Linked DNA regions of Homo sapiens. The protein of the gene in region 2 interacts with the protein of the main gene of each other region in a pairwise test. Each region holds a gene or a part of one and is shown on either strand. Other genes may lie near its edges.

Evidence for each region.
Region 1: the proteins of TIMP3 (region 2) and AGTR2 interact in binary tests that used the Homo sapiens proteins (3 or more experiments, as listed by UniProt).

The regions. Positions count from the first base shown.
Region 1 is NC_000023.11:116,169,138-116,173,543, reverse strand, and holds the start of AGTR2 (type-2 angiotensin II receptor), read right to left. Parts: upstream 2,801-4,406; 5' UTR 2,728-2,800; intron 2,577-2,727; 5' UTR 2,517-2,576; intron 1,299-2,516; 5' UTR 1,264-1,298; coding exon 172-1,263; 3' UTR 1-171. UniProt on the Homo sapiens protein: Receptor for angiotensin II, a vasoconstricting peptide. Signals primarily via a non-canonical G-protein- and beta-arrestin independent pathways. Cooperates with MTUS1 to inhibit ERK2 activation and cell proliferation.
Region 2 is NC_000022.11:32,853,644-32,857,466, forward strand, and holds part of TIMP3 (metalloproteinase inhibitor 3 precursor), read left to right. Parts: intron 1-3,605; coding exon 3,606-3,717; intron 3,718-3,823.

The DNA.
Region 1 (4,406 bases), on a different chromosome or scaffold from region 2:
AATGGGCAATTCCTGAAAGTCACTGGACGATAAAACATAGTTACATTTGGTTTCAGAAGATTCAGAAAAGATTAGGGGAAATTTTATTATTTTATTAAAACCACTTAAAAATAATTCTGGTGAGCCTCAAAGCAAGTAGCCATGTTGATTACATGCATTTTGCTCTCACGTTTAAGACACAAAGGTCTCCATTTCTCTAAGAGAACTGCTTTTCCGGCAAGACATACTCTCTCTTTTCCCTTGGAGCCAAGTAATTGGAACCCTAAACACACTGCGGAGCTTCTGTTGGAACCGGTTTCCAACAAAACAATACAGAAACGGATTAACGCAGCTGTTGGTGAATCCCAAGAGGATGGCAAAAGGAAGTGCCAGGTCAATGACTGCTATAACTTCGCAGCTATTAATGACACCCATCCAGGCCAGAGCATCCAGGAAGGTCAGAACATGGAAGGGAAGCCAGCAAATGATGAAGGCCAGAACAACAGCAGCTGCCATCTTCAGGACTTGGTCACGGGTTATCCTGTTCTTCCCATAGCTATTCGTCTTCAGTAAGTGTTTTCTAATTCCAAAATAGCATGTTGCTATGAATATTAAAGGGATAATAAAACCAAGGATATTTTTCATTAAGGCAATCCCAGCTGACCATTGGGCATATTTCTCAGGTGGGAAAGCCATAATGCAAGCATTCACTCCTAAGTATTCAATGGTTCTGACGTCTCGAAAATAAAATGTTGGCAATGAGGACAAACAGGCCATACACCAAACAAGGGGAACTATATAAGATGCTTGCCAGGGATTTCTTCTTTGAGACAGAAAGGGGTAGATGACAGATTGGTACCTATCAACACTCATGCAGGTGATAAAAAAAATGCTTGCAAACATGTTCAGGGTAAGAAAAGAACCAAAAACTTTGCACATCACAGGTCCAAAGAGCCAGTCATATCTATAAGAATAATAGGTTGCCCATAGAGGAAGAGTAGCCAAAAGGAGTAAATCAGCCACAGCGAGGTTGAAGATGTATATGCTAGAAACCTTTTTAGGACCCTTTTGACAACAAAACAGTGTAACCACGACAATATTGACCAGAAATCCAATTACAAATATAATGTAGTAAAGAATAGGAATTGCATCTAAATGCTTATCTGATGGTTTCTGTGAACAGTTCAAGGTAGACTCATTGTTGCCAGAGATGTTCACAAGCCCGAAGTGAAGACCGCTGGTAATGTTTTTGCTAGTAGTGGCAAGGGTGGAGTTGCCCTTCATATTGAAATGTCAGCAGCTCCTAGTTCTTATGCCTTCTGTGGAGAAAAAACATAGAACTCTTAGAACACATACAGAGCTGAGGACATCCTTGAATCATTAGCATTTTGAATGTTTGTCAAAAGCAAAAAAAAAGTGAGTGATTATAGAAAACATTAAGAAACAGAGCCATGGCTTGTAAAACAAGAATTCATTTTACCTCTTGAAAAAGGAGAAATAATTTTCCTGATAGTAGAAAAAAGACATTTCAGAGATTCAAAGTTCTGAATAAAACTACCTTTTGCCCATCTTTTCTATGATGTTTTTGAAAGATTTAAAGAAAATTAATATTTCAAAAGATTAGTCAGGGCAGGAAATGTGTGAAACAAATAAGAAACCCAGAGGTAAGAAAAGTTAATCTTTCAAAAAACACTTGAGCATATATCTCTGTTTGTATACTTTCTAGAAACCACACTGCTGCTTGCTATTGCATAGAGAAATGCTCTATTTAAGTAACTAATTACATACAAATCACTACAGCTGTGGAAAATATAAGTAACATAAGCAATGGAAAAAATAAGTATATAAAAAACTAAAAGAGAATATGCCAAAGGAACATATTGTGATGGGGAATCATGGTTTGTCTTTAATAATTAAAAATAATTCCTTTAGTTTTACTTTTCTATTGTTTTCACAATAATAATATAGTTAAGAAGAAGTTATGAAATATATTTATATTTCTAAGTCTTCTCCTTTTAATAGAGAATATTAGTTTTAGATATAGATATCTAATTTTGGTCTATTTAATATCTAAACAATCCATTTTCAATTAAATCAGATAAAGAAAAAAACAGCCAAACCTATGTTAGGTTCAAGTAGAAGTAGTTTAGATTGCTCAGTGAAATGAGAAATGAACATCAATGATTAATCATGATATAGTCTTATCATTTTTCTTTTTCTCTCTTTTCGGTTTAACCGAACTGAATAGCCGTTGCTCTCAAACGTTACAGTGTTGAGGTTTTTGTGATTTTTTTCACTAGAAGCATTATTTTAAAACCAAAAAAAAAAACACATTAGCTAAAGATAAGCATACAAAGGAAACACTATTTACTTTAGATAGTTTCAAAATACATGCAAATAAGCTACCCAATTAAAAGTGTAATATCTAAAGAACCTCCTAATAAAGAGCAAAACTTTTATTTTGCTCTAAAGATTTTTCTTTTGACCTAACAAATTAACATAAAAGAATCAATAATAAATTCCACTTGAAGACTTACTGGTTGTTGAAGTTTAAAGCAGTTATCATAAATCAGCTTGCTTAGTGCCTAAACACACTCCTGTAAGAGAAACAGCAGCTAAATAATTCAGGAGTTTTGCAAAATACAGTGTTAAAACACAGGAAAAACAGAAGTTCATCCATAAAAAATATTTTCATTTAATGTATGTTCTACTTTCCAAGTAAATTATATATAAATTGTTCATACTTACCTTCAAAATTCAGGCTGCAGAATGCTTTGAATTCTGTGCTTACTCGTTCTCTCAGACGCTGGGACGTAATAGCACCAGATCTCTGGTTTCCTTCTTATATGTTTGGTCTGTCCACTGGGAGCCTTCAACCTACATAATTCTAGGGCTGACTTATGAACCCTTGCCAGCTTTCCAGAGAGGTTTTTTTTTGTCTGCAAAACATTAATCTGAAATTCTCACTGTCTCCAATCATAACAGCTCATTCAAATAAATCTCAAACAAAAAAAATGAAGTTTCCACAAATGTGCTAGAGAATTTTGAAGTCAGTGGCTTACTTGGTAGGAGAAAAATATAGTAATTATTTACAGAATTTTCTCTTCCTTTTTTCCTGATATTGGCATTCTAATAGAAATTAGTGAGTAGAGACTAGGAAATTTATTATAGTAGCAAAGTCTTTGTTCATCAGCTTTCACAACCTTCATTACTTTCTGAAATTTTTACCCCTGTTTATTAAAGAATGGTAGGAATTTTACTTGAAGTCTACCACTTCTAAAATTTCTCCCTTGCTTTGCGCAGTTTTTGTTGGCTTGTTGCTGGAGGGTTGGAGATTGCAGGAATATAATTTTTACACGACCAAAAAGAGGTTTAGTCTCCTTTCATAGGTCTCTGTCATATTTGTGGTTTAAATACAAAGCACATAAAGTGAAGAGGGATTCGCTAGCTATTTCAACCTAGATCACTGTTGCTGCTGTCTCTTGTGGCAGTGGGGGCAATAAACTACACAACCAATCCAGCAGAAGCAAGAGTGACAAAATGAAGAAAGATAAGAACAGGTGATGGTAGTGATAATACTAGCTGACAATAAATGTTATGTGCCGAACACTGTGATGAGTTATTTATCATCAATAATTTAATAGAGAGGCAATATAGCACACTGGTTAGTAAATAGCCTCTGGGATCCAACTACCTGGCTTTACAAACCCAGCTCTACCACTTACTAATTCTGACCTTGGCCAAGTTACTTTACTTCTTCATGTCTCAGTTTCTCATCTGAGAAAGGAGAATGATATAAATTACCTACATCGTAGAGTAGGAATTTTAAATAAGCTAATGGAAAATTAAATGAGCTAATATGTTTAAAGTGCCTAAAATCATGCCTAGCATATGGTAGGTGCTATTACAAGCTATTCATATTAGCCCCCACTTTACAAATCAGGAAACTAGGACTCATAGAGTTTAATAACTTTTCTGAGATCATACAGCTATTAAATGAAGACACTTGCATTTAAATCAAAGGAAACTAATATCAGAACTCACGCTGTTTAGCCTCTATACCACAAGAGGAAGCACTAGATGGTCCCTTAGTCTCACTCTTTGTCTTGGCAAAAAGGAAACGTGGCATTTACAGAAAATCACTGATGACCATTCATAATCTATCATAAAAGCATCAAAGAAGGGGAAAAGAATTGGAAGAATTGTTATGTGGGGAAACGTATTTTTCTTAATTGTATTGCCCAAATGGAGACCACAGGAAGGAGAAACTTGTGACTAGATGGCTTTCTATAGTTAGTACAGAGAACCAGAGAACCTAGAGCACATTTTAAATGGGCAAAAAGATTCAAGTTATTTCTGTGGATCATATTTTTCAGATAAGCAGCAAGAATGCACCTGTCCATGCTGCAGGCCACAGGTAAAGAATG
Region 2 (3,823 bases):
AGTTCTAAACCAGCTTTAACTACTCTTGTTAAGAGCTGAGGAAGGGACTTAGGAGAAAGGGGACCAAACTCATTCCTCCTCTCCTTACGAATTTCAGTATAACTTGTTCTAAGCTAACTTTTATTGAATGTTGTGGGCTGACTGCTATTCTAAGTCATTTGCTTCTCTCAAACACCCTAAGAAGTGCTTTGACCCATTTTACAGATGAAGAAACTGAGACCCAAAGAGGTTAAGTAACTTTCCAAGTGGCGAACACAGGTGGCAGAGAAGATTGAAGATTCAAACTCTGGCTGTCAGCCTCCAAAACCTGAATTTACCACTGATCTCCATGGCATTGGTTTGGATTAGATTACCTTTAACATCTTTTCCAACTCTGAGATTCTAGGATTCTCTGATGTCAGGACATTATAAACCTATTATAACTCTCCTAAATTTGTCAAACCAATTCTAGATCTCTATGATTACAGACATGATACTTTTAGAATCAATATTTAAATCAAGGTAGGATTATTACACAGAAAACACAACTGAGTAGAATCTACCTTTGCCATGTTGTTCTTTTCAGAATTGACCCTAAAACACAGCGCTATGTTTGTCAGAGCCAGTCATTTGTAATGTGTCAGAATTTCGACTCTAGGCAAGTGCTAGGAGCTAAAATGCAGGTTCCTTCAAACTTCCAAGTAGCTGCGGTGCCAAGCTGATTTCGATGAGTTGAGTTCTTACTGAGCAGTTCAAATGACCAGACTGTAACCAGGGGCTTCATTCTCTCACCCACGAAGCACTAGGGCAGTCAAGGGGAAAGACTGACGCAGAAGGAATGAGGTTCCCATGGGCTGGGTCCAAAAGACCTAGAGCGAGTGCTTAGTTGAAACATTTGCCAAAACCTCAAGGAACACCCACACAAAAATAAGAAGTTGCTCGGCACAGAAGTCAGGGTAGGGGATGTTCTTCGAAGGCCACACTCCATGGCAGGCATACAGCAGCACGCTTAAACATGGTTCCTGTTAAGGCTAGAGAGGCACCATTCACATAGAAGAAGTCATCATCGTGACTCTACCCACCCCGCGCCCCCACCGCGTAATTGAATGCTGAGTGTGGACGGCACTTCTTCCAGCACTTGGCTGCGTTACCGTGCTCAGTTGGCAAGCCTTGGGGGAGAAGAGAGGTTCAGAAGGAAGACCATCTGAGTCCATCAGAACAATGTGTGCTTTTAACAAGGCAGGGGCGCCCAAACTCAGTAGGTCCAACAGACCAAGTTATGCTATGAAGGTCTTGTGGACCACCTACCCCCGCCAACCAGTCACCACTTAAAAGATGAGAAAACGCCAGCTCACAGGCCAAATGGGAGGCATTTAGAAGAGACACCAATGAAGAGATGTCTGGCTTTGTATTAATTACTGTAGGTAAATTAATACCAAATGCCAGGAAGTAAAGTAGAGGCATTTTCCTATTATAAACCCTTGGGACAAGCCCAGAGACCACCAGCAGTCCAGGGCTTGTGTACGCTGAGAACTGAGGGGATAACAGAATTGTGCAACACCTTGGTGCCCCACCGCCCCCGTTACCAAATCTCACAGTTCACAGTATCGCCTTGGCACACTGGGCTTGTGTAATACTCATGGACTTGACCTGGAATCACAAAGCGGACTCAGCTTCTGTTACATTCATTCACCCCAGTGACTCTGGGCACACACTGTGCCTCTGAAGGAGGCACAGTGGCCATAAATGGAAATAGCATTTGCCTGCTTCTGGGGACCTTGGTCATAGACTTCTGAGGCTTTCCTGGGAGCCAGTCTAAGATAATGGGTAAGAGTATGGACTCTGAAGGCAGAGTCCTCTGCTTGGAATCCTAGCCCTGCCATTTCCCAACTGTGTGGCCTTAACAAGCTACTTAGCCTGCCTGTGACTCAGGCTCCTCATCTATAAAATGGGCATAATAGTTCCTACCTCATAGGGTTGTCATGGTGATTCGTGGGCTAATATTAAAGGAGATTTCTCAACCTCAGTACCATTGACATTTGGGGCCGGATAATTCTTTGTTCTGGGGGCTGTCCTGAGTATTATGGGATGTTTAGCAACCTCCCTACCCTCTACGAACTGTTGTGACAACCAAAATTGTCTCCAGACATTGCCACATGTCCCAAATATTTCCTAGGGGGGCAAAATTGCCTCCAGTTGAGAACCACTGTATTAGATTATGTCGTAGATACAAATAGCCAAATATCAGCAATTTCACGTGGTTCAATCTAACAATTATAAAGTATTTAACAGTTAAAACTCTTTGAACTTTGTAGATACATTTATGTGCTTCATCTGGGATAAACGAACCCAATGCTTTCACCAGACGCTCAGAAGAATAAAAAACATGGAGAATTTCTAGCTTGAATTCAACGTTCACCAGCCAAATAGAATTTCTATAAAGTGGGGTTTGTAATACATCCCTCCCAGGGCTCTTTTAAGGATACTGCAAGGAGAATGTGAGTGAGAATGTTTTTGTGGGCTGGAAAGTGTCACAGAGATATCATGAGAATGCTGGCTGAGTTCACGGGACTCAGGTCCTAAGGTTGACAAAGAAAAAGGACCTTTGTCACAGCTACTTCTCTGGATTTCTGAAAAGGTGCTGGGATGTCAGACATGTGTAGCCGAAGGAGTGTTGTGGGGCAGTTGGAATGGGGGGTATGGCTGGCTGCACAGGAAGGTTTCTCTGGGAAGGCACCAACCTGGCTAGTCAAGAGGATCGGTGGCTTCATCTGGGGTGAAGGGGGCCCTGGGGTGGGTAGATCAGTGACCGGCCACTGGACAGCTGAATAGGGGAGCGAGATTCCCTCAGATCCAATGTCAGCAAGCCTTCTGGGTACTGAGACTCCTCTCCTGTGTTCCTCTTATTTTATTGATACATAATAAATGGACATATTTTGAGAGTCCATGTGGTATTTTGATATATTCAAAAATGTATAGTAATCAAATCAGGGTAATTGGGATATTCATAACCTTAAACATTTATCGTTTCTTCATGCTGGGAACATCTGAATTATCCTCTACTAGCTACTTTGAGATATACAATAAGTTATTGTTTACTGTAGTCATTCTACTGATTCAATGAACACTGGGTCTTACTTGTTCTGCGTACTCGTATTTTTGTACCCATTAATTATATCTCTTTGCCCCAATCCTTATTACCTTTCTTGCCTCTGGTAACCACCAATCCACTGTCCATCTTTATGAGATTTACTTTCTTAGCTCCCACATGAGTGAGAACATGGTGTATTTGTCTTTCTGTGCCTGGCTTATTCCGCTTAGCAAAACGACCTCCAGTTCCAGCTGCATTGCCACAAATGACAAGATTTCATTCTTTTTTCTGGATGAATCATATTCCATTGGGTATAGATACCAGGTTTTGTCTATCCATTCATCTGTTGATGGGCACTTAGGTTGATTTCATATCTTGGCTATTGTGAATATTGCTGCAGTCAACATGAGAGTGCAGACCCCTCTTCCATATTCCGATTTCCTTTCCTTTGGATACATACCCAGCAGTGGGATTAGGGATCATACGGGTGTCCAAACTGGGAAAGAAGAAGTCATGATGTTCCTTTTGCCCACAGATGTACCGAGGCTTCACCAAGATGCCCCATGTGCAGTACATCCATACGGAAGCTTCCGAGAGTCTCTGTGGCCTTAAGCTGGAGGTCAACAAGTACCAGTACCTGCTGACAGGTAATGGCCAACTCTAGCTTCTAGGCCAGGGTTTGGCCAAGGTCCACTGTTTCTTGACTTCAGAAGAACACATACGGAGTAGTTGACTCACCAAATGTCCAGTAAA